Homo sapiens: one gene and its partners. The protein of the gene in region 3 interacts with the protein of the main gene of each other region in a pairwise test. Each region holds a gene or a part of one and is shown on either strand. Other genes may lie near its edges.

Region 1 (3,500 bases), on a different chromosome or scaffold from region 3:
CTCCATAAATATGCTCTCTTCTTACTAATTATTCTTTCTTTCTTTGTCAAACAGGCTACCAAGCAGTTTCTCGAAGAGATTAACAAGTGGACAGTTCAGTACAATGTTTCCCCGCTGTCTTGGAATGTGGCTGTCAAGTTCCTCATGGCAAGGAAGTTTGATGTGCTCCGTGCCATAGAATTGTTCCACTCCTACAGAGTATGTGGCTCAGGGGTAGACCAGACCTGTGGCAGTTGGGTTAAGTGTTGCTGTTGTCCCTGTCATGCTCGACACACACATTGGTTCTCTAAGTGTTCCTCCTCACTTTCATAAAAAATGGATCCATATCCAGGAGCCCTTGTGAGAGCTGAAGCTGGGCAAGGCAGCTACTGGAAGGCACTACTTTTGTACCTAAGTTTTGATCGTAGACCAGGATGCCACATCTAATGATTGAGACGGAGGAAGTAGCCTGACAGCATCCTGGTGGCAGGATAGGGGTTCACCCTTCCTAGAGTTTTAATCCTAGCTCTTTTCATTGGCCTCTGGCCACATGAAAATCTTGGTTTTCAGGTTGTCTAAGGCTTTTAGAAACTTGCCATTCAGATGAATGATGAGCTTAGTGGGCAGTTCAGGAAGGGAAGTTTTAACACTGGAAAAGAAGAGCAACTGTGTATTAGCTAGGTCCATTATCTTAAAGTATCTTTATGCAAATGTAGCGGCATCAGGATTTTACTTTGTTTTGATTTTTGTTTTTTGAGGGGGCATAGACTTTGGTTTTGTGCTTGTTTGCTTTCTCAGTTAGTAGTGTCTTTGATAAAACACTATACAGCATGTTACTTTGGGGTCAGAATCCTTCTAAAGAAATACAAAATCTCCCTAAAAAAAAAAATTGGGATAACAAGCACTAGGATTAGCTTAACTGAAGTTTGGTTACATCTGTCTTGTGGACCAGCTCATTCAATATTCATTCATTTACTCAACAGATACTTATTTTATACTTACTGTGTTCCAGGTGCAGAGATTACTATTTAGAAAGAGAGACTAGGGCTGGGTGCGGTGGCTCATGCCTGTAATCTCAGCACTTTGGGAGGCCAAGGCAGGTGGATCACTTGAGGTCAGGAGTTTGAGACCAGCCTGAACAAAATGGCAAAACCGCATCTCTACTAAAACTACAAAAATTAGCTGGGTGTAGTGGCACCTGTATTCCCAGCTACTCGGGAGGCTGAGGAGGGACAATCACTTGAACCAAGGAGGTGGAGGTTGCAGTGAGCCGAGATCACACCATTGCATTCCAGTCTGGGCAACAGAGTGAGACTGTTTAAAAAAAAAAAAAAGAAAGAGAAAATAAACAAAGAGTTGTAGAAATGTTATGATAAGGCAGCACTGGATTCTGTGGAAGCACTTTTTTTTTTGAGACAGAGTCTTGCTGTGTCTCCCAGACTGAAGTGAAGTGGCATGATCTCAGCTCACTGCAGATCTCTGCCTCCTGAGCTCAAGTGATCCTCCCACCTCACCTTAGCCTCCCGAGTAGCTGGGACCACAGGCATGCACCACCATACCTGGCTAATTTTTTGTATTTTTAGTAGAGACGGGGTTTTGCTATGTTGCCCAGGCTGGTCTCGAACTCCTGAGCTCAAGTGATCCACGCACCTCGGCCTCCCAAAGTACTGGGATTACAGGCATGAGCCACCGTGCCCAGCCTAAGAGGTTTAAAACAAGCGGTTGATGAAATAAGACAAACCAAGATAATATTTTTTTGTTATCGGTATATAAAGGTAGAGAATGTCTCCGGAAAAAGGAAGTGTAGGTGGTCAACCTTGTCATTTAAGAGGAGAACTGAAGAGGCTGGGCGCGGTGGCTCATGCCTGTAATCCCAGCACTTTGGGAGGCCGAGGCGGGTGGATCGCTTCAGCCCAGGAGTTGGAGACCAGCCTGGGCAACATGGCAAAACCCCGTCTCTACTAAAAACACAAAAATTAGCCAGGCATGGTGGCACGTGCCTGTAATCCCAGCTACTCAGGAGGCTGAGGCAAGAGAATCTCTTGGACGTGGAGGTTGCAGTGAGCCAAGATCATGCCACTGCACTCCAGCCTCAGCAACAGTGTGAGACTTGGTCTCAATTAAAAAAAAAAAAAGAATCTGGCCATCAGGGTGAGGAAAATGAAGTCATGGTAGCTGCTGTTGGAGACAATATCAGGTGGAGAGAAGGCTCCTATTTAAACATAGGAGAGGCCTAAACCTAGAAAATATGTGAGAACGTAGGCATCCAGACATTTTTGAGGTCCATATTTTAGTGTCCTGGTACCATGTCAGTGCTGCTGCGTGTTTAAGAACCTTGATCCTGCACCTGAATGTAACATACTGGTTACTCTTCAGGGTTAGGGTTCTTACTGAGTCAGAGAAAAATACCCTACCTGAGGGGCTGATAAAGTAGCTTTGGACAGGAATTCCGAAAATGCTTGACTGGCTTGGAGGCAGGTTACAAAGAAATTCATAATTCATTTAGTTGACTTCATTATTCATTTAGCTGAATTCTTTTTTTTTTTTTTTTTTTTTTTTGAGACAGAGTCTCATTTTGTCACCCAGGCTGGAGTGCAGTGGTGCTGTCTTGGCTTACTGCAACCTCCACCTTCTGGGTTCAAGCGATTCTCCTGCCTCAGCCTCCTGAGTAGCTGGGATTATGGGCGCGCACCACCATGCCAGGCTAATTTTTGTATTTTTAGCCGAGACAAGGTTTCACCATGTTGGCCAGGCTGCTCTCGAACTCCTGACCTCAGGTGACCTGCCCGCCTTGGCCTCTCAAAGTGGTGGGATTACAGGCGTGGGCCACTGCGCCCGGCCCATTTAATTGAATTCTAATTCAACTAAATGAAGTAGAATTGGTTATGAAATTAGTTACAAAATTTATTTAGTTATGAAATTTATAATTCATTCATTCATTGATAACCACCTTATCTCTGAGATTTGGTGGTTACATGGTGCTGTCCTGGATATACAGTATTTTCATATTAATACATTTTGCTGTGCTTCCTTTTTAGGAAACTCGAAGGAAGGAAGGCATTGTAAAGCTGAAACCTCATGAGGAACCTCTTCGTTCTGAGATCCTCAGTGGAAAATTCACCATCTTAGTGAGTGTTTAGGGACCTATCTTGTAGGGCCTTATTACTTCCTTTTTTAACTGGTGTCCTGTTTGGACTTTGTTTTTTTTTTTTTTTTTTTAATTTTATTATTATTATACTTTAAGTTTTAGGGTACATGTGCACAACGTGCAGGTTTGTTACATATGTATACATGTGCCTTGTTGGTGTGCTGCACCCATTAACTCGTCATTTAGCATTAGGTATATCTCTTAATGCTATCCCTCCTCCATCCCCCCCTGTTTGGACTTTGTTCCTATATACCTTATCCTGAATCTAGAGAGTCTCCACAGTTAGGAGCAGATGTGAAACAGCCATGCAGTTTGGTATAAAATTATTTTAGTAACAATTGAATTACTAATAGTTTCTAGTAATTAGAGTTAC
Region 2 (3,500 bases), on a different chromosome or scaffold from region 3:
TAAGATCTTCTGAATTGCACCTGCCAACAATTTTTAAAGGAATGTGAAGAAATGTTAGACAAGAAAAGTCCATTAGAGAACATTTCTATAGATGTTCATGTTCAGATAACTGCCTTTTAGAATATCAGCAATGACAATTATGCATCGATTTAATTTGCTAGGACAATTCTTTTTATAGAAAGAATGACATAATTGTTAAGCCAAATTTCTTTTTCTTTTCTTTTTTTTTTTTTTTTTGAGACGGAGTCTTACTCTGTCGCCCAGGCTGAAGTGCAGTGTGGCGTGATCTCGGCTCACTGCAACCTCTGCCTCCTGGGTTCAAGTGATTCTCCTGCCTCAGCCTACCAGGTAGCTGGGATTACAGGCATGCGCCACCATGCCCGGCTAATTGTGTATTTTTAGTAGAGATGAGGTTTCACCATGTTGGTCAGGCTGGTCTCAAACTCCTGACCTCAGGTGATTCACCTACGTCAGCCTCTCAAAGTGCTGGGATTATAGGCGTGAGCCACCTTGCCTGGCCTGTTAGGCCAAATTTCTAATACAGAGGAGAGGTCATTTGATTCTAGAGTGAATTCAAGGATGTATTCAGTTCATTATTGCAAACATGTATGAGACCCTATAATGTGTATTCTGCCAAGTACTTGGGATTTAGCAGTGAATAAGACATGAGTCATGTCCATAGTGAGGAGGGTCAGAAATTTAAACACCCAAGTGCAATATACTATGATAAGTAGAATTGATATATGTGACTTTGCAGTAGCACAGATGAAGGAGATTGATTGCTCCTGGCAGATTGAGTTGCTGGGAAGGCCTCACAGAGCATAAGTTACAATGAATGTGAAGGAATTCCCTAGGTGAACAAAAGGAGAAAGTTATTTCAGGCAGAGGGAATTGCATGTGGAAAGGCATAGAGTTATCATAACAGCTAACACTTAGTGGCTGGGTGTGGTGGCTTATGCCTCGACATGGCTTGGCTGTGTCCCCACCCAAATCTCATCTTGAATTCCCACATGTTGTGGGAGGGACCAGTGGGAGGTAATTGAATCATGGGGGCAGGTCTTTCCGTGCTGTTCTTGTGATAGTGAATAAGTTTCACAAGATCTGACAGTTTTATAAGGGGGATTTTCCCTGCCCAATCTGTCTCTCTTTGCCTGCTGCCATCCATGTAAGATGTGACTTGCTCCTCCTTGCCTTCTGCCATGAGTGTGAGGCCTCCCCAGCCACGTGGAACTGTAAATCATTAAACCTGTTTCTTTTGTAAATTGCCCAGTCTCGGGTATGTCTTTATCAATAGCGTGAAAATGGACTAATACACACCTGTAATCTTAGCACTTTGGGAGGCCAAGGTGGGCAGATTGCTCGAGCCCAGGAGTTTGAGACCAGCCTGGGCCAAATGGCAAAACCGTGTCTCTACTAAAAATACAAAAAGCTAGTCAGGTGTGGTGGTATGCACCTGTAGTCCCAGCTACTTGGGAGGCTGATGTGGGAGCATCACTTGAGCCCAGGAAGTGCTGAGGTGGAGGTTGTAGTGAGCCGTGATCACACCACTGCACTCTAGCCTGAATGAAAGAGCGAGACCCTGTCTCAAAAAAAAGAACTAACATTTAGTGAGTCCTCTAGTAGTATGTCTACAAAGTAACTCAACACATACTATTTTCTTGAATTTTCATAGCTACCCTGTGAGGGCCCTATTATCCCCATTTGACAGGAAAGGAAACTGAGACAGAGTAGTTAATTTGCCCATGGTCATATCAATAGCAGGTATGGGGCTGAATCCCAGATTGGTTCTGATTCCAGGGTCTGCACTCTTACCCATGATGCCAGTTGCCTTCATTATATTAACTGAGTTTTAAATTTGCGGTGGGGAAGCTATAAGACCTTAAGCAGGGAACTAAACAAGTCCTAATATTAGCCTTTATTTTATTTTTAGGGAGTTACTTTTGGCTGCAGGTCTTTGTCAGTGGACCTGAGTGTTTGTCTAAGCCCTACCCCACCCCCCAGGATGAGAAGCAGGACCTTTGAATCCACTCCCCCCTCTCCCACACTGCACTATCAGTATTCCATCAAGAGAGCCCATGCTTTCAAAGGAGTTCAGCTATGTGATTTAGTTCAGTTAAGTAAGGAATAGTGGAAGTTCAGTAATGGCAGATTCAAAAGCAGAGATTATAAGGGGGACATGCAAATGTATTGGATATAAAATGAAGGTAGGTAAGAGGAGAAGGTGTGAACAGTGGTTAGTTAGGTGCTATTTTAGTATAATACCCCCATCATCATTCTCTGCCCTCCACAAAAAAATTAAGTGGCTTAACAAGATTTTATTTTTCTGTTTTCAGTCTAATATTAGCTATCCCAGGCTGATGGGCAGCTCTGCTGTCCATGACACATGACTTACAAGGTTGCTCCAGGCATCACCATTTGCCAGCCAGAGGGAAGGGAAGGGAAGGTGGAGTGGGAATACCTGGCAAGTGGCTTTAAGGAGATGCTCTAGGATCACTTCTGTCCTTATCCCATTGGCCCAAGCTTAGTTACATGACACACTTCTCTGCAAGGGAGGCTGGGGAATGTAGTCTCTAGCTAGGCAGTTATGTGCCCTGCTGAAGCTTGGGGGTTGCTGTAATTAAAAGGAGGAAAAGGAGAAAGGTACTGGAGGCCATCAATGGATGCCACGCTTGGTGATTTTTAAAAAGTGGTGTGTCACCTGGGCATGGTGGCTCATGCTTATTACAGCACTTTGGGAGGCCGAGGTGGGCAGATTGCCTGAGCTCAGGAGTTTGAGACCAGCCTGGGCAACACGGTGAAACCCCATCTCTACTAAAATACAAAAATTAGCTGGACGTGGCGGCGCACACCTGTAATTCCAGCTACTTGGGAGGCTGAGGCAGGAGAATCGTTTGAACCTGGGAGGCAGAGGTTGCAGTGAGCCAAGATCATGCCACTTCACTCCAGCCTGGGCAACAGAGCAAGACTCCATCTCAGGAAAAAAAAAAAAAATGTTGAACCACTCATCAGAGAATTGGCTTTCCCCTCTGTAATCACAGGGCTACTTTCTGTCCTTTTTCACCAGGATCTTATAAAACCTCTGACTTAGCATATATCTGTTGGTGCATGCTCCATGGTTTTTGTTGACTCACTTGACGAAATGTTCCTTTCTCACATGTGGATTACGATCTCAATAGTTAATTAGCATTTTTCTGTCGAGGTTGAGTTGGTTTCTACTTTTTCTTGTGAGGTTTACTCATATTTCTTGTGTGTCTTTGCCTCTCACTAGAGGAATTTTAGAGGGCATCTTGTCCCATCTCTTCTCTTGCTCAAGTATGGACTGAATCACCCACTGTTTTCTGGCACAGCTTGTGTTTGTGCTCCTAACTGCTGCCTGCGATGGCAAGAGGGGGGTCACCTTCCCTGCCTTCTGCGTGCCTCTGCTTGAGGAGACAAAGCTGGCCGTGCTTTCTCTGGAGAACTTAGCCAGACAGCACAGTGTGTCACAGTGAAGACTTTAA
Region 3 (3,500 bases):
TTCTCCCACCTCAGCCTCCCAGGTAGCTGGGGCTATAGATGTACTCCACCATACCTGGCTAATTTTTTGATTTTTTGTAGAGATAGGATCTTACTTTGTTAGCCAGGTTGTTCTCGAACTCCTGGGCTCAAGCAGTCTTCTCCCTCCACCTCCTAAAGTGTTGGGATTACAGGCGTGAGCCACCAGACCTGGCCCACAGTTCTTTTTTGCAGGTGGTGAGGGCTCCTTCTGCCCTTCCACCCAGGCCAGAAACCCCGGCCTTCTTCGCAAACCTTGCCCATGTCTGCGCCAGGACACTGCCTCTGCCCCAGGCATGTGGCATCTCTCCCTTCCAGCCTGACCCCTCAATCCCTTGAGTAAACTTCTAGGGCCCTCATTGACCACCAGGCCCGTTGAAGCTCCCAATTTGGGGCTCCTGGCCTCCCAAAGTCTCTGTGCCACCCCACCCCGACCTCAGTTATCTCCATGCCCACCGCCACCCATGCAGGGCCTGGGGCTTGGCCCCACTTTGCCTGGCCGAGCCCCGCTCATACATTGTGCTCAGCCTGGGTCCCTTCCCTTTGGAAGCTCTTTCTGCAGCTGCCTGCCCTCCCAAGGCATCTGTCTTTTCTTTTCTTTTTTTTTTTTTGAGATGGAGTCTCACTCTGTCACCCAAGCTGGAGTGCTGTGGCCCATTTTGGGCTCACTGCAACCTCTGCCTCCCAGGTTCAAGTAATTTTCGTGCCTCAACTTCCGGAGTAGCTGGGATTACAGGTGCCCACCACCATGCCCAGCTAATTTTTGTCTTTTTAGTAGAGACAGGGTTTCGCCATGTTAGCCAGGCTGGTCTCGAACTCCTGACCTCAAGTGATCCACCTGCCTTGGCCTCCCACAGTGCTGGGATTACAGGGGTGAGCCACCGCGCCCAGCCCATCTGCCCTTTTTCTTTCTTTCCTTTTTTTTTTTTTTGAGGCGGAGGTTTGTTCTTGTTGTCCAGGCTGGAGTACAATGGCGCGATCTCGGCCCACTGCAACCTCTGCCTCCTGGGTTCAAGCGATTCTCCTGCCTCAGCCTTCTGAGTGGCTGGGATTACAGGCATGTGCCACCATGCCCGGCTAATTTTGTATTTTTAGTAGAAACGGGGTTTCTCCATGCTGGTCAGGCTGATCTCGAACTCCCGACCTCAGGTGATCTGCCCACCTCAGCCTCCCAAAGTTCTGGGATTACAGGCGTGAGCCACTGTGCCCAGCCTCCATCTGCCCTTTTTCTATGTGCTTTCCAGTCAGGGCCTTGTTGATGTCCCGGAGTAGAGACCAGTTCCAGGAGAGGAGGCTGTCATTTTAAGGACACAGAGGACATTAAAAAGGGTAAAATATTGTAGCTGGGTGCAGTGGCTCCTGCCTGTAATCCCAGCACTTTGGGAGACCAAGGTGGGTAGATTGCTTGAGCCCAGGAATTTGAGACTAGCCTGGTTAACATAGGGAGACCTTGTCTCTACAAAAAAACAAAAATTAGCTGGGCGTGGTGGTACACACCTGTAGTCCCAGCTACTGGGGAGGCTGAAGCAGGAGGATCACTTAAGCCCAGGAGTTTGAGGCTGCAGTGAGCTGTGATGGCGCCACTGAACTCCAGCCTGACCCACAGAGCAAGACCCTGTCTCCAAATTTAAAAAGAAAAAAGTAGAATATTGCAGAAATCCAGAAAAATAGCCAGGGGGATTTTGTTGTTGTTTTTCCTTACCATAAGGCATACCAAGCTATCTCCCTGTAGAAAAGTCTCAGTGGTGTCCCTCGTTGCACTTGGCATGAAGCCCACGCTCCTTCCCGAGGCCCTCAGGCCCCCCTACCTGTCCCCAGCTACCCTCCCTTTGCCCGCTCTCTCCAGCCACAACAGCTGCTTTCCCCTCTGCCCCCCACAGTGCGCCAGCTCCAGTGTCCCAAGAAATCACCCTCACGTGAGTCCCCACCGCTCCGCTTCCCATCGAGGCCTCTTCTGATTTCAGAGCAGATTCCCTGCATTCCACAAAGGAGCCTCCCACCCTTGTGTTACAGGAAAGGGGTCCCAATCCAGACCCCAAGAGAGGGTTCTTGGATCTCGCACAAGGAAGAATTCAGGGCGAGTCCATAGAGTAAAGTGAAAGCAAGTTTATTAAGAAAGTAAAGGAATAAAAGAATGGCTACTCCATAGGCAGAGCATCCCTGAGGGCTGCTGGTTGCCCTTTTTAAAAAAATTAATTAATTAATTAATTTACTTATTTTTGAGATGGAGTTTCTCTCGTCGCCCAGGCTGGAGTGCAATGGCACAATCTCGGCTCCCTGCAACCTCCACCTCCCAGGTTCAAGCAATTCTCCTGTCTCAGCCTCCTGAGTAGCTGGGATTACAGGCACACACCACCATGCCCGGCTAATTTTTGTATTTTTAGTAGAGACAGGGTTTCACCATGTTGGCCAGGCTGGTCCTGAACTCCTGACCTCAGGTGATCCACCCACCTCGGCCTCCCAAAATGCTGGGATTACAGGTGTGATCCACCGCGCCCAGGCTGGTTGCCCATTTTTATAGTTATTTCTTGATAGTATGCTAACCAAGGGGTGGATTATTCATGCCTCCCCTTTTTAGACAATATAGGGTAACTTTCTGACGTTGCCATGGCATTTGTAAACTGTCATAGTGCTGGTGGGAGTGTAGCAGTGAGGACAACCAGAGGTTACTCTCGTGGCCATCTTGATTTGGGTGGGTTTTAGCCGGCTTCTTTACTGTAACCCGTTTTGTCAGCAAGGTCTTTATGACCTGTACCTTGTGCTGACCTCCTGTCTCATCCTGTGACTTAGAATGCCTTAACCATCTGGGAATGCAGCCCACTAGGTTTCAGCCTTATTTTACCCAGCTCCTATTCAAGATGGAATTGCTCTGGTTCATACGCCTCTGACGCTTGGAAGGGGTGTGGGTGTCAGCTGCCCCATGGGAGGGGTGAAGGCATGAAGCGGCCCCTCCCTGGCCTGGCCTGCTTTCTTCCTCCTCCTTCACTCCTGGGCCACCTGCAGTTGCTGGTGTGCCTTTTCAACAGACATTACTGAGGCCCTCAGAGGTGCCAGGCGCAGGGGCGTCCTGTGTTTTCTGCACCCGACGCTTTCCTGCCCCTGTGGTGGTCATGTTCACAGACCTCTTCTCTCCCCCTTGTTGTGCCACAGGTGATTCTCCTAGGTCACTGGCTGCTGACAACCTGGTAAGTGACTCTGTGGGTATCTTGTGTGTCTCCTGCGGTCTCAGGGTCTGTGTCAGCCGGGTCAGGTCCTGGTTCTGCCGTGTTTTAACCAGGTCACTTTGGGCCAGACAGCTCTGCCTCTCCGGGTCTTGATTTCCGTCTGTACAATAGGCATAAGGATTGCACACCCTGCAGGAGCTGGGAGGGAGACGTGGAAGTGCTCATCAGAGCTCCCCAGGGCCTGCCCCACAGTGAGGCCTCAGCACTGCAGCTTGATTTTCACCTTTACCATCTCTTTTAATCTGTTGAGCTTCTGGAG
Region 4 (3,500 bases), on a different chromosome or scaffold from region 3:
CCATTGTGAATAATGCTGCAGTGAACAAGGGGGTGCAGATGTCTCTTTGACATGCTGATTTCATTTCCTGTGTTATATACACAGAAGTGGGATTGCTGGATCATATGTTAATAGTTCTATTTTTAAATTTTTTTGAACCTCCATACTATTTCCCATAATGGTTATACTCCTCTAAATTCCCACCAACAGTGTACAGTGGTTCCTTTTTCTCCACATCCTCACCAACACTTACCTTTTCTTTTTGGTAATAGCGGTTCTAACAGGTGTAAAGTGTATCTATCTCATTGTGCTTTTGATTTGCATTTCTCTGATGACTAGTGATTTTGAGGATTTTTTTTCACATACCTATTGACCATTTATATGTCTTCTTTTCAGAAATCTTTATTCAGATCCTTTGCCCATTTTTCTTTCTTTCTTTTTTTTTTTTTTTTTGACATGGAGTCTCACTCTGTCGCCCAGGCTGGAGTGCAGTGGCGCGATCTCGGCCCACTGCAAGCTCTGCCTCCTGGGTTCACACCATTCTCCTGCCTCAGCCTCCCAAGTAGCTGGGACTACAGGTGCCCGCCACCATGCTTGGCTAATTTTTTATATTTTTAGTAGAGATGGGGTTTCACCGTGTTAGCCAGGATGGTCTCGTTCTCCTGCCCTCATGCTCCACCCACCTCGGCCTCCCAAAGTGCTGGGATTACAGGCATGAGCCACCTCGCCCAGCCCCTTTGCCCATTTTTAAGTTATTTGCTTTCTTGCTGTTGAGTTGCGTGAGTTCCTTATGTATTTTGGACATTAGCTTTTTCCCAGATACATGGCTTGTAAATACTTTTTCCCATTCTGTGAGTTGTCTCTTCACTCTATTGAGTTTTTAAATAGTTCTTTACTGCCCCTTCCAAAGAGGCAGCCTTCTTTGTTTTGTTTTTGCTGACCAATTTCCTTCCATTCTTTTCTTTTTCTTCCTATTTCTCTTCTTCCCGCGTCTTCCACCCAGCATCACATGTAGTGCTAGATTATGGGCATACGATGATAAATATAAGAGAGAGAGGAGAGAAAGAGTATGTGTATATATATGTGTTTGTGTGTTCTACTCTCAAGAACCACACAGGCTAGTAGGAATACAGACAACAGCAGGTAGTAATAATACGGCATGCTAAACATTGCACATTGAGTGGTATTTGGGTCCAGGAAACAGGCCCGTTTCCTTCTAGATGTCTTTTCCCCTGACTTCTGTGCTGTGGCACCCTTTACGTCCCCTCTGTCTTACTCCTTACATCCCCTTCCCTTAAATATGATAAGTTCCAAGTATTCTTCTATCTTTTGCCCACTTATATCTTGCTCTTAGCCTCCCATGGATTCTTATATACGCTTGTGATATTAACTCTTACGTCTATGCAAATTACCTCCAAGGTCTACATTTCCAGGATTAATGTCTTACCTCATTTCCAAACTATAATATAACTCGAATTGCCTTACAGAAATTGTAATGTGGCTATCTCATTCATACTGAACTTCCATTGTCCAAATCTGTTTCCCTCTACAAAAGATGATCTGAACAAACAACAAAAATCCATTCTGAGTTCTCTGTGTCAGTGAATGACTTTATTAGTTCATCCGTTACCCGATCTCTAGAAATCTCTGGGTCACTTTTAACCCTGAATTCAGCTCATCTTACCCGTTACACACTGGGCAATGAGTTAATTAGCTGATGAACATGATCTAGTATAATCTTTTCATTATGAGATAAGTATTATATTTCTCTGTTTTACAGATGAGAACCTTGAGGCCAGAAGGGTCAAATAACGTTTCTAAGGATGATACATGGCACCTAAGAGATCAACCTAGGATCAAACCAACATTAGTATCTCTGCGAAGTCTGGCCTATTGCCCATTATATTGTATTTTCTCTTCTTATAGTTGGTCTGATTGTTTCTTTTGTACCAGTGCTAACATACTTCACGTCCACATTTGTATTCTTGCTCCTTTTTTGTGACTTTATAATCTACATATATTTGTGACTAGGAAGATTTTATTAATAGTGTAGAAAAATTTTTCAGTAGGTTAAGCTAAAACAGGGCTCAGCAAACTCTATAACAGACCAGAGAGTGAGTATTTAGGCTTTGTGAGCAACACAATCTCTATAGCAGCTATTCAATCTTACCTTGATAGCAAGAAAGCCATGGCAAATGATAAATCAAGAAATGGCTGTTGCTGTGTTCCAACAAACTTTATTTGTAAAAACAGACTATGGGCAAGGCACGATGGCTTAAGCCTGTAATCCCAGCACTTTGGGAGGCTGAGGTGGGCAGCTCACTTGAGGCAGGAGTTTGAGACCAGCCTGGGCAATGTGGCGAAACCTCATCTCTACAAAAAATACAAAAGCTAGCCGGGCATAGTGGCTTGCACCTGTAGTCCTAGCTATCTCTGGGGCAGGGAGCCACTGGAGCCTGAGACAGGAGGATCACTTGAGTCTGGGAGGTTGATGCTCCAGTAAGCCATGATCATCCCACTGCACTCCAGCCTGGGTGACAGAGTAAGACCCTGTCTCAGAAACAAAAAAAAGCCAAAGCCAAAAAAAAAAACCCCAAACAGACTACTGTGGGCAGATTTGGCCCTTGGGTCTGTAAATACTTATTTCATTTTTACTATCTAAGCTAATGTGTTTTATTGGATTTACTTATTCATGCATTTATTTATGTATTTAAAAACACATTGATGTATAATCTCAATTAGATAAAATAGAAGTTAAGGGAGGTCCTTGCAGAGATACCATTTGAACTTAACAATCTTGGACCTTTGATTGAGAAGTATACTTTCTTTTTTTTTTTTTTTTTTTTTTTTTTTTTAGTGAGGCAGAGTCTCACTCTGTCACCCAAGCTGGAGTGCAGTGGTGCAATCCTGGCTTACTGAAGCCTGAACTCCTGGGTTCATGCAGTCCTCCTGCCTTAGCTCCCCAGTAGCTGGGACTGCAGGTGTGTGCCACCATACCCGGCTAATTTATTAAATAAAATTTTTTTTTTTTTTTTTTTTTTGTAGAGATAGGGTCTTGTCATGTTGCCCAGGCTGCTCTCAAACTCCTGGGCCCAAGTGATCCTTTCGCCTTGGCCTTCCAGAGTGTTAGGATCATAGGCGTGAGCCACCACACCCTACTGAGAAATGCACTTGACCCCTGGACAACTGATTACCCTCCCTCAGTCAGTTGAAAATTCCTGTATACCTTTTGACTTCCCCTAACTTAACTATTAATTGTTAACTGGAGGCTTTACTGATAACATAAACAATTGATTAACACATATTTTGTATGTTATAGGCATTATATACTGTATTACAATAAACTAGAGAAAAGAAAATGTTATTAAGAAAATCATGAGGAAAGAAAATGTATTTACTATTTATTAAGTGGAAGTAGATCATCCTAAAGATCTTTATTCTTATCTTCATGTTGAGTAGGCTGAAGAGGAAGAGGAGGGGTTGGTCTTGCCTTCTCAGGGGTGGCAGAGGTAGAAGAGATA
Region 5 (4,109 bases), on a different chromosome or scaffold from region 3:
TGCTATTTTTTTTTTTTTTTTGAGACAGTCTCACTCTCTCACCCAGGCTGGAGTGCAGTGGCGTGATCTCAACTCACTGCAACCTCCGCCTTCCAGGTTCAAGCGATTCTCTTCCCTCAGCCTCCCCAGTAGCCTCCCCTAGGATTACAGGCACGTGCCACCATGCACAGATAAATTTTTTTGTGTGTATATTTTTAGTAGAGATGGGGTTTCAGAATGTTGGACCAGCTGGTCTTGAACTCCTGACCTTGTGATCTACCCAGCTCAGCCTCCCAAAGTGCTGGGATTACAGGCGTGAGCCACGGTGCCCAGCTTCACTATGCCATTTCATGCAAGGGGCTTGAGCATCTGCAGATTTTGGTATCTGAATGGGGATCCTGGAACCAATCACCCAGGTATAGTGAAGGACCATGGTATATAATTTTTATTTGTCAATCTTAAAAATAAAGCATAAAAAATTTACAACAACAAGATAAAAAATAAGAAGTGTTTTTATAGTGTGAGGATAAGTTTAGATTTATTTTTTCCTACGTGTAACCCTATGGTCCTGTGTTATTTGTTGAGAAAATATTCTATTCCACCTTAAACTACATGGCAGCCTTTGTCAACTATAAAGGGACTGTGTATCCACAGATGTATTTTAGACACAGTTTTCTGTCCAGTGGTTCTCTGTATCCCCTCTCATGAGGATGCTGCATTTTATATAAACTTATAGAACCCCTTAAAATTTGGTAACCTGAGTCCTCTGATTTGTTATTATAGGTTATTTAGTTTGCTTTTTTTTTTTTTCTTGAGACAGACTCTTCCTCTGTCACCCAAGCTGGAGTTCAGTGGCTTGAGCTCAGCTCACTGCAACCTCCGTCTCCCAGGTTCAAGCTATTCTGATGCCTCTGGTTTAGTAGTAGAAACTCAAGCAGGAAAATTAGAATGGCTTCTTGTCACAATTACTCTGATAATGTTAATAATACCTGTTAGACATTTTGCACATTACATATGAAGAAGAGTTTGAATCTCAGATAAAAACAAAAATACATCAAAAATCTTTAATGTAAGCACAGAATTCAATCATCTCGTGTATGAGAGGTTGGATCTGAGACGTCTTTTGAGTCTGGTCGTAGTGAAGGACGCAAGGTGTCAATTCTAGTGAGAACAATTTCCAGGAAGCCATGTTCCGCTCTTGAGCGAGCACCCACTGGGCCTCATGCAAGGTAGAAAGAGCCTGCGTACGTCACCCTCCCATGATGTGGTCAACATGTAAACTGCATGGGCAGGGCGCCAAATAACATCCTGTGCGCTGCTGAGCTGAGCTGGGGCGCGGCCGCCTGTCTGCACAGACAGCACCATGTCGCTCATGGTCGTCAGCATGGTGTGTGTTGGTGAGTCCTGGAAGGGCATCGAGGGAGGGAGTGCGGGGATGGAGATCGGGGCCCAGAGTTGGAGATATAGGCCTGGAAGTGGAGTTATGGGCCTAGAGATGGAGTGATGGGCCTAGAAGTGGAGATCTGGGCCTGGAGTGGAGATCTGGGCCTGGAGTGGAGATATGGGCCTGGAGGTTGAGATATGGGCCTGCAGTAGAGATATGGGCTTGTAGTGGAGACATGGGCCTGGAGATGGAGATATGGGCCTGGAGATGGAGATATGGGCCTGCAGTAGAGATAGGGGCCTGGAGTGGAGATATGGGCCTGGAGTGGAGATATGGGCCTGGAGTGGAGATATGGGCCTGGAGGTGGAGATATGGGCCTGGAGGTGGAGATATGGGCCTGGAGTGGAGATATGGGTCTGGAGGTGGAGATACGGGCCTGCAGTAGAGATATGGGCCTGGAGTGGAGATATGGGCCAGGAGTGGAGTTATGGGCCTAGAGGTGGATATCTGGGCCTGGAGTGGAGATATGGGCCTAGGAAGGAGATATGGGCCTGGGTGTGGAGATATGGGACTGGAGAGGTGATATGGGCCTGGAGTGGAGATATGGGCTTAGGGTGGAGATCTGGGCCTGGGGCGGAGATATGGGACTGGATTGGAGATAGGGGCCTAGGGTGGAGATCTGAGCCTGGATTGGCGATATGGGCCTAGGGTGGAAATATCAGCCTGGAGTGGAGATATGGGCTTGGGGTGGGGATATGGGCCTGGAAACTGGGTCTCTGCACAGCCGACAGCCCTGTTCTTGGGTGCAGGTAGGCACTGAGGGTGAGTTTAACTTCAGCCCAGGAAGGGCCTGGCTGCCAAGACTCACAGCCCAGTGGGGGCAGCAAGGGAGGCCTGGTTTGCCTGCAGATGGATGGTCCATCATGATCTTTCTTTCCAGGGTTCTTCTTGCTGCAGGGGGCCTGGCCACATGAGGGTGAGTCCTTCTCCAAACCTTCGGGTGTCATCTCCCCACATAAGAGGATTTTCCTGAAACAGGAGGGAAGTCCTGTCGGGGAGTCTCTCATAAACTAGGAAGAGAGGACCCTGGGGTGCTCAGCCCACATTTCTGACCTCGCCTCCCTGGCCTCTCAACCCCTTGGCAGAGTCAAGTTCTGTGGGGACCAGGGTTAGACTGGGGTGCTCAAAGCTGGGGTGTGTGGTTGGGAAGTGGTAGGAACAGCAGATCCTCTGAGGACAAAGGTGTTACTCACACACTTCAGCGTTTCCATGATGGTAGGGGCTGCAGTGTGGCTGCTGTCATTCTACCAGAAGAGGTGGGAAACCACAGCCATGGCCCTGACATTCCAAATCCTCTGATGGGGGCTCAGTTGTTTATTTTCGTTCAGGCATCCGCTGATATCCATTCACAAAGGACATGCCCTCCACCTCATGTCTACCCTGTGTTGTTTTATGTGAGTAATCTTACAGTATTAAAATCTAGTAGGAGTCTCTTTACTCAGCACTTGCTCAAAGTTCTCAGCTGAGGCTTTTGTTGTAGGGAGACACCATGTCTTTGCGGGATGGGTCCTTCCTTCAGCCCTGGGCACCAAGGTGTGATAGTAGCCATAGAAACGTGGAAAGCGAGGAGAATCTTCTGAGCACAGGGAGGGAAGGGCAGTTCCACATCCTCCTCTCTAAGGCGGCGCCTCCTTCTCCCCAAGGTGGTCAGGACAAGCCCTTGCTGTCTGCCTGGCCCAGCCTTGTGGTGCCTCTAGGACATGTCATTCTTCGGTGTCACTCTTATCTTGGGTTTAACAACTTCAGTCTGTAAAAGGAAGGTGGGGTGCCTGTCCCTGAGCTCTACAACAGAATATTCTGGAACAGCCTTTTCATGGGCCCTGTGACCCCCGCACACACAGGGACATACAGATGTCGGGGTTCACACACACACTCCCCCAGTGGGTGGTCAGCACCCAGCAACCCCCTGGTGATCGTGGTCATAGGTCAGAGGGCTCCTGTCTTGGATTCTCCTTGTCCCACCTCCTGAATCCCAGAGCTTCTGTTGGGCATGTCCTTGAGGGTCCCATCACGCAGGCCCTGACTGTATTTGTGGTAAAGGGGGATTGAATACAGGGAAATGGGTGCTGTGGTGGGAAGAATAATTGTCCCCAGTGATGACTACATTCTAATCCCTGGAGTCTGTGACTATTTATGTTATAGGGGAAGGGACTGAAGGGGAAGATGGAGCTCATGGGGAGACAGCCTGGACTGTCCCACTGGGCTCAGTGTAATCACAAGGGTGCACATGAAAGGAGGAGGAAGAGGGGAGTGGGGATTAGAGCAGTCCAGTGGAAGTCTTCACCAGCTTTGAAGGTGGAGGAAGGCCAAGATCCATGAATGCAGGTGGCCTATAGAGGCTGGAAAAGTCAAGGAACTGATTCTCCAGAGTCTCCAGAGGGAACAAAGCCCTGCAGATGCCTTGATTTTAGCCCAGGAAAAATAGGGTCCAATTTCTGTCTCCAGTACTGGAAGGTGTCAGTGTGGTCTCTCCTGCTGCCATGCTTCTGATAATTTTCTACAGCAGCAACAGGAAACCAACACTGGAACCCAGGTCAAGGACAAGTTAAGAAACAACCCAAGGAAAGCCAGGCATGGTGGCAGGTGCATGTAATCCTAGCGACTCAGGAGGCTGAGGGCAGGAGAATCACTTGAACCCAGGAGACAGAGGTTGCAGTGAGCCTAGACCACACCACTTCACTCCAGC
Region 6 (4,005 bases), on a different chromosome or scaffold from region 3:
CAGGAAACTGGAGTGGTCCTCTCAGCCAGCCTCAGAGGAAAGAAATCTCTAGCTGGCACAGGCAGCCAGTGAGTGAGGCTGGCGGCTGCAGGGGCACAGCCTTTAGAATGAGTCCTTCAGTGCACAGGTCCCAGGGTATACGGGGTAGTGGGAGGAAGGAGGGGACGCCTCGCAGATGCCACTGTTGGCTGGGCTACACCTTGCCACACTTGTTACTGCTTAGGAGGCTTTCTGGAGTGTTCCTTGGGTGCTACGACAATCTGCAGCAGACACTGTCCTTTCACCGCTCCTGGTCCTCGTTTGCTCCCCAGTGATGTCAACAGCTGAGGACTGCTCACGCTGCAACAAAAGGCTCTGCAGTCGCTGTCTAGCTTGCCCTAGTCGTCTCTAGAGTTCTGCCTGAACTGAAACTCAAGTGGGGTTCAGCTCATGACTTGTGGCAATTGACCAGGAAATTCACCAGTTGCTGTGGCTGGAAGGATTTTCAGTCCTGTGGGTTGTAACCAGAGGCCACAGGTGGATTCTGCCTTAGGCTCATGAGATTTCCGACTTGCTGTTGAAGAAAATGCCTTGTGAAGTGACAACAGTAGCTCTGACCCAACTGCCGGTGCCTCGCTAGTTCCTATACGTCCCACTGGATCCTCACAGCCCCGGGAAGCAGGTGCTACTACTCTTATCCCCGGGAGGAGACAGAGGCCGAGAGAGGTTAAGTGACGTGCCCAAGTCACACAGCTCGGCAGCGGCCGGGTTGAGCATCAGCAGTCTGTTTGCAGACCCCTCACTGTCACCCCCTGAGCCAGTGCGCCTTGGGCCCTGCGGTCAGGATGTCTCAAGCGTGGAGGCATCACCGGTTCGTGGCAGTCTCTGGAAGGTCACTGAGCTCTGTGCCCAGAATCGAGTCGGGGGAGTCTGTGCAGAGGTGGCCCTGTGTGTGGGGACAGTGTGTGACACAGACACTGCTTTGGATGGACACCTCTCCCGTGACCTCCTAGCATCCAATCCCAAAGGAACAACTGTTGCAGAGATGGACCGCTGGACACAAACCCACGTGCGTTTCTCTGGAGACACTGGCCAAGGAAAACAAAACATGCTCGAAGGCCAACAGCTGCATGCCCCACCGCGATGTGACCGCAGACACCCGGGGTGTAGAAGGGTCTCTGCCTGGTGGGGGGACACGTGCAGGCCGAGGAGAGGCAGGAAGGAGGCTGCCTCCGACTCCCCACTGGACTGCATGGCGACGGCGTGTGGTGGGGCAGTCAGCTAAGCCATTTGCCTAAGGGGCTGTCGGGCATCTGCGTGCTGGGGACCGACAGTGTGGGTGTGTTAGGAGGATCTGTATGGAGCACATTGCTGCCTCTGGCTAGGACAGGGTGGAAAGGGTGGCGTGGCTACAGCCTGACCCATGGGCACCGTCCTACCCTTTGTTCTGTGCTTCCGAGTGTCAGTCATGTGCTGGGGTCTGTGGGCCCATGACTCAGACGGTGAGCTCTGACCTTCCTGAGCCAGGGCTTTGCTGTAGTTGTGCCTGGCTCAGGAGCTCTAGGACAAGGGGACCGCTCCAGGTCTGCATCTACGGTGTGGCAGGGCCCCTCGGCACTCTTGTGCACTAGTGTCATCTTTCCCATTGAAATGACTGTGAGGACCAGAATGTGCACATGCAGATGGGCAGCTACTTGTCTGCCTTGGCCCTTTATTACACAACTTGCTGGGGGTGGAGATGCCACCCCCCGGCAGTCAGAGCCCCTTTATGATGTCATGGGGCTGGTTACATGACTGCCAAGGGGTGCTGCTGGCCACACTGCACTAGCAAGTTTGCCAGATGGAGGACAAGCGATCATTGAGTATGGCTCGCTGTGAAGAAAGAAATTCGAGAGGACAGGATCATGGCTTGGAAAGGGTGCCTTTCCCTCCCCAGTTGCAGTCAGAGACCTACCTTCACCCAGCAGATCCTTCCCCTGCCTGGGACGACCCGGGGTCCACTGGGAGCCCTAACTTGAGGCTGCTGACAGAAGAAATCGCTTTCCAACCTCTGGCCGAGGAAGCTTCGTTCAGAAGGCCGCACCCTGACGGTGACGTCCCGCCCCAGGGAGAAGATAATCTCCTCTCCCTCCCCTTTCCACAGAAACTGTGGAGACTGGTCAGCAGCAACCAGTTTTCGTCCATCTGGTGGGATGACAGTGGGGCTTGTAGAGTGATCAATCAAAAACTCTTTGAAAAGGAGATTCTCAAAAGGGACGTCGCACACAAAGTGTTTGCCACAACTTCGATAAAGAGCTTCTTCCGCCAGCTAAACTTGTATGGCTTCCGAAAACGGCGTCAATGCACTTTCAGGACCTTCACCCGCATTTTCTCCGCAAAAAGGCTGGTCTCCATCTTGAATAAGGTAATGAACGACAAGCCTCTGGAGGGGTTAAGTCGGTGGGCTCTGGGGCCTGGTCGGGTGGAAGTCCCAGGACTGCCTCCTGGGAAGTGGGCGACCTCAGGCAGGGTGTGGGGCCATCGCTGTGGGCCTGTGTCCCCCTCTGGGTGGAGGTGACATGAACTAAGAGTGAATGTGGGGAGAGGGCTGAGGATGGTGCGGGCCCCTCTCGAGTGTGTAAAATATCACAGGTGCCAAGTAGCCGTATCTGCGTGTCGTCCTCCCCGGGGCCAGCCATGTCATCTGGCGGTTGCTGTGTCCCCCTGACTCCACAGCACATTACCCTGTGAGGTGAGCAGGCCAGGGGAGTCTGGTATTTGTACCACTGTCACCCTAGCTGGTGTCTGGAGAGGTGCTCAAGTGGAAGCACTGAAGGGCGCCTGGCGCAGGAGGTGCAGATGCTCCTGCTGCCCTTGGTAGGTGGGCCCCTGGTGTGGAAGAGCCAGTACCCAGGGCCTCCAACCCAGCCGGGGTGCATTCTGTTGCCAGCTGACACTGCATGGGGGAGGCCCAGAATCTTCTTCCCTCCTGGTCTGCAACTTCAAAGACCCTTTCCGCCGGCCATGGACACCCTAATCTGCCATTTTGAGGCTTTTTCCAAGACGGAAAGGCCCGCCACAACTTGGTAAACCTTGACGATGTGAACGCGAGTCCCCAGCTTCCTTTGGGGACTGGGACCTTTTCCAGAAAGGCCTCCTGGGCCAGTAGAGTTCTCTTGCACAGGGGCGTAGATGGTTGGTAGTTGTAGTCCATCCTTGTGACTTGCAGTTTCCTTTTGTTTATTTAAACTTTGACTTATAGTTAGAGTTCTACTGCCATCCTTACTTTCAAAGAGACTCCCCTCACCTCCTCGTGAGGATGAAGAGAAGAGTGGGTGTCAAGTCTGCACCAAGACATCAGGAGGAGGACAAGCCAGAAGCTGCTGGATCCTGTCTGGCACCAGCAGACACTGAGCAACAAGATCACACGTCTCCGAATGAGAATGACCAGGTCACACCGCAACACCGGGAACCGGCCGGTCCCAACACCCAAATCAGGAGTGGCTCTGCTCCACCAGCAACTCCTGTGATGGTGCCTGATTCCGCCGTGGCGAGTGACAACAGTCCAGTGACCCAGCCGGCCGGCGAGTGGTCAGAGGGCAGCCAGGCTCACGTCACTCCGGTGGCCGCTGTCCCTGGGCCTGCAGCGCTGCCCTTCCTCTATGTCCCTGGATCTCCCACTCAGATGAATTCTTACGGGCCTGTGGTGGCCCTTCCCACAGCGTCCCGTAGTACCCTTGCCATGGACACCACAGGACTTCCTGCACCTGGCATGCTGCCCTTTTGCCATCTCTGGGTACCGGTGACCCTAGTGGCTGCTGGGGCTGCACAGCCTGCTGCCTCCATGGTCATGTTCCCCCATCTCCCAGCTCTGCACCACCATTGCCCCCACAGCCACCGCACGTCACAGTACATGCCAGCTAGCGATGGGCCCCAGGCGTACCCAGACTACGCAGACCAGAGCACATAGAGGGCAGCATTTGGGCAGAATATGTGCTGGTCAATAAATGTGTCAGAAAATGAGTAATTTTCTGACTGCACAAAAAA
Region 7 (3,500 bases), on a different chromosome or scaffold from region 3:
GGTGTGCATTCGTGTTAGGGACTGGAGGCCATCTTCAGGTGTTCTCTACAGCCACCTCCCAGCAACTTAGGCAGCAAGCCTTGGAGCTGCAGTGCTACTTGCGAGTTGTCAGGGCATCCAGCAAGCCTGTGCAGCTTAGCTGGATAGATGCATTAGAGCTGCCTCTGTGCTGCAGGATCCTCAGGCATCCTAGCAGTGGCCTGCTCAGTGCTGTGTATAGCTCAGGCCTCCAAATTCTGAGGGGGAAGTTTAACTTCTCAGAGGTTTATGGAATGTGTCCCAAACTGACACACCAGCCTTCTGCTAATAGACTCTCTGCTAGCAAGGGTCACATTTTGTCTCCCTGCACTTCCATTTGCATATCCATTTAATGGGACTTTACAAAAATGAGTTAATTTTTTTTAAGTCTGTTTGTGGCCCAGCTCATTTTGGCTGCAGGCCAAATTATTCTGACTCTGCATGTATGCAGTCAGATCCCGTAAGTGCTGTTTTCAAATCAGTCTTGCTTCATGGCACCCAGTGAAGCCTCAAAATTAGGTGCATGTTCAGCATTGAGCATTCAGTTACCAAGTTCCTTGCCCAAGGGGTATCCTGACTATAAGGACACAGTGCTACTGCCAACTAAGTTTCCACATGAGGTTGTGTGTCAGAAAAGGAGAAATTGTTGGATTCTTAAGTTCTTACGCACTGAGGCATCTAACTGTCAAATTACAAGATGGGAAGGAGAGAGCCCTAAGACCTTGCTACTCAGCATGTGATGCAGAGACTGGCAGCAGTCGCCTTACCTGGGAGCTTGATGTTCCGATGGTTGGTACCAACATTTGTATGAGAAGCACTGTTCTAAGGAAGATCTCTGCAGAAGGTACAAGGACTCTAATGTTAGGTCATCAGAGCAGATCTAGCTGTCTAATCACTTGGAGGCAGCAAAGCTTGGTGGTCTCCTAGTTTTGTGACCTGGAGTGAATTTAGAATCTCTGTGCCTCAGTTTTCCTATCTAGGAACTATGGATTATGGTACCATCTACCTCATGAGATTGTTTTGAGGATAAAGAGTTAATACATGTAATGTATAAGCAGTGCTTGGCACATGTGTTGCCATTATAGTTAGGATTTTTACTATCAGCTTCTGTAGCTACTAGGGCACTGCTTAAACAAATTAATGAACCCAAGTTTTACTTAAAAGACAATGGAATCTAAAGCCAGAAAGGAATGAAAGCCACATGATTGTGGGCCTCCTGTCCTGCCAAGAGTCAGGGCTCAGAGTCTCACGACCTGCCTTCAACAGTAGCGGTCCAGTGGTTATTGTTCACCCTGGATAGCATACACAGGCCCGGGGGTGGGCTGCTGGTGTTTACGAAGCTCTTCAAATGTTTCTAATGTAGCAGCGGGATTTAGAATCATTGTACTAGGGCTTCTAACTTGCTAGGAAAAGAGCAGAACTTAGTCTGTTTGGAACCAAACTTGACAGAGACACTATGGGGCGACTCTGAATTGCACACAATGTCTGCTACTGCATCTAAACCCATCTGGTAGTGGCAGCGGGGAGATGTTACGACAGTTGTCATCAAGATCACCCTGGACACTTGGACAAATGGGGTAAAGAGTTGTGGCAGTAGCTGTAGTTGTTTTCCCATTAGCCTCATTCTGAGGAGTTTCAGAGAAAAATGGGGTTACTCTCTGGGCATTCTCAACCACCAGGGTAAAAATCTTGGGAGACTCAGCTACATGTTCAAGCCCTTCTGCTAGTTTCTGGCTTGTCATTTCACTTCCTGGCTTGTCACTCTACTTCCTAATCACATAGCTTTTAAAGATGACCCTCCCTTCTCCCCCCCAACAAAAGGTCAGGCATTTCCCTTTGCAACCTGGCTGCATATGGAATCATTTTTGGCATTTAAAAATATACTGATGAGGCCGGACACGGTGGCTCACCTGAGGTCAGGAGTTCAAGACCAGCCTGGCCAACATGGTGAAATCCCACCTCTACTAAAAACAAAAACAAAAACAAATTAGCCAGGCGTGGTGGCATGCACCTGTAATCCCAGCTACTTGGGAGGCTAAGACATGAGACTTGTTTGAACCGGAAGGTGGAGGTTGCAGTGAACCGAGATCCTGCTACTGTACTCCAGCCCAAGCGACAGAGCAAGACTCTGTCTTTACAAAACAAAACAAAACATAGTGATGATTTCATTGGTCTGGGGTAGGGCTTGGGCACAGAGATGTTTTTAAAGCTCTCTTTAAAGTAAGATTCTGATGTGCAGCCAAGGCTGAGACCCACGGCTGCAGGCGTTGTTCCTCCCTCTACCCACTGCCCCCTAAGTCTTGTTCTGGGGCAGTGCTGTCAGTAGAAATGGATGCAAGCCACATATGTAATTTAAGAATTTTCTAGTAGCCACATTAAAAAAATAAAAACAGTTGAAATTAATTTTTTTTTTTTTGAGACAGAGTTTTGCTCTTGTTGCCCAGGCTGCAGTACAATGGCACGATCTTGGCTCACTGCAACCTCCACCTCCCAGGTTAAAGCGATTCTCCGGCCTCAGCTTCCCGAGTAGCTGGGATGACAGGCGTGCACTACCATGCCTGGATACTTTTTTTGACAGAGTCTCGCTCTGTCGCCCAGGCTGGAGTGCAGTGGCACGATCTCGGCTCACTGCAAGCTCCGCCTCCCAGGCTCACGCCATTCTCCTGCCTCAGCCTCCTGAATAGCTGGGACCACAGGTGCCCGCCACCACGCCCAGCTAATTTTTTGTATTTTTTAGTAGAGACGGGGTTTCACCGTTGTTAGCCAGGATGGTCTCAATCTCCTGACCTTGTGATCCACCCGCCTCGGCCTCCCAAACTGCTGGGATTACAGGTGTGAGCCACCGCGCCCGGCTTACTTTTGTATTTTTAGTAGAGACAGGGTTTCACTATGTTGGTCAGGCTGGTCTTGAACTCCCGACCTCAGGTGATCCACTTAATATATTTTATTTGACCCAGTATATCCATAATTTTATCATTTCAACATGTAATCAAAATTGAGCTATTTTGCTGCATTTTCATACTAAGTCTGAAGCCTTGTTTATGTTTTACACTGCACATCCCAATTCACACGAGCCAGACTTTCAAGTGCTGAATGTAGCTAGTGGCTGCTGTGGCAGTGATACAGGACATTTCAATCAGAGCAGAGATTTCTATTGAACAGTTCTGTTCCAGGGAGTCCTTATTTTACAAATTCCAGGCTAAGAGGTCCTCACAGGGAGCACCGTTTTTATTGTACAAGATGCTGATGACAGGTTCTTTCATATTCAAATTCAGACCTCCCCCACATTGTTACTTAATAATTCTCATCTACCCACACAGCCATCCGAGCTAAGCTTGCAAATGGGGCAGGAAGAACAGGAAAAAAACTCAAAACCTCCCCCTTCATAAATGTGGTATTTGTCCATGTTTACATGGAGGTTCCACTCAGCCCTTGAGGAGCAAAGCAGCAAGTGGGGCAGTCACTGTTTCCTCAGGTTGAGG

The links.
Region 1: the proteins of AGTRAP (region 3) and PTPN9 interact in binary tests that used the Homo sapiens proteins (3 or more experiments, as listed by UniProt).
Region 2: the proteins of AGTRAP (region 3) and MCEE interact in binary tests that used the Homo sapiens proteins (3 or more experiments, as listed by UniProt).
Region 4: the proteins of AGTRAP (region 3) and FARS2 interact in binary tests that used the Homo sapiens proteins (3 or more experiments, as listed by UniProt).
Region 5: the proteins of AGTRAP (region 3) and KIR2DL3 interact in binary tests that used the Homo sapiens proteins (3 or more experiments, as listed by UniProt).
Region 6: the proteins of AGTRAP (region 3) and HSFX1 interact in binary tests that used the Homo sapiens proteins (3 or more experiments, as listed by UniProt).
Region 7: the proteins of AGTRAP (region 3) and GABARAPL2 interact in binary tests that used the Homo sapiens proteins (3 or more experiments, as listed by UniProt).

Annotation. Positions count from the first base shown.
Region 1 is NC_000015.10:75,523,816-75,527,315, reverse strand, and holds part of PTPN9 (tyrosine-protein phosphatase non-receptor type 9), read left to right. Parts: intron 1-54; coding exon 55-198; intron 199-3,017; coding exon 3,018-3,107; intron 3,108-3,500. UniProt on the Homo sapiens protein: Protein-tyrosine phosphatase that could participate in the transfer of hydrophobic ligands or in functions of the Golgi apparatus.
Region 2 is NC_000002.12:71,120,230-71,123,729, reverse strand, and holds part of MCEE (methylmalonyl-CoA epimerase, mitochondrial precursor), read left to right. Parts: intron 1-3,500. UniProt on the Homo sapiens protein: Methylmalonyl-CoA epimerase involved in propionyl-CoA metabolism.
Region 3 is NC_000001.11:11,742,636-11,746,135, forward strand, and holds part of AGTRAP (type-1 angiotensin II receptor-associated protein), read left to right. Parts: intron 1-1,897; coding exon of another isoform or gene 1,898-1,933; intron 1,934-3,167; coding exon 3,168-3,202; intron 3,203-3,491; coding exon of another isoform or gene 3,492-3,500. UniProt on the Homo sapiens protein: Appears to be a negative regulator of type-1 angiotensin II receptor-mediated signaling by regulating receptor internalization as well as mechanism of receptor desensitization such as phosphorylation.
Region 4 is NC_000006.12:5,362,513-5,366,012, forward strand, and holds part of FARS2 (phenylalanine--tRNA ligase, mitochondrial), read left to right. Parts: intron 1-3,500. UniProt on the Homo sapiens protein: Is responsible for the charging of tRNA(Phe) with phenylalanine in mitochondrial translation.
Region 5 is NC_000019.10:54,737,204-54,741,312, forward strand, and holds the start of KIR2DL3 (killer cell immunoglobulin-like receptor 2DL3 precursor), read left to right. Parts: upstream 1-1,309; 5' UTR 1,310-1,342; coding exon 1,343-1,376; intron 1,377-2,303; coding exon 2,304-2,339; intron 2,340-4,109. UniProt on the Homo sapiens protein: Receptor on natural killer (NK) cells for HLA-C alleles (HLA-Cw1, HLA-Cw3 and HLA-Cw7). Inhibits the activity of NK cells thus preventing cell lysis.
Region 6 is NC_000023.11:149,772,863-149,776,867, forward strand, and holds HSFX1 (heat shock transcription factor, X-linked), read left to right. Parts: upstream 1-1,205; 5' UTR 1,206-1,819; coding exon 1,820-2,383; intron 2,384-3,220; coding exon 3,221-3,928; 3' UTR 3,929-4,005.
Region 7 is NC_000016.10:75,572,879-75,576,378, forward strand, and holds part of GABARAPL2 (gamma-aminobutyric acid receptor-associated protein-like 2), read left to right. Parts: intron 1-3,500. UniProt on the Homo sapiens protein: Ubiquitin-like modifier involved in intra-Golgi traffic. Modulates intra-Golgi transport through coupling between NSF activity and SNAREs activation. It first stimulates the ATPase activity of NSF which in turn stimulates the association with GOSR1.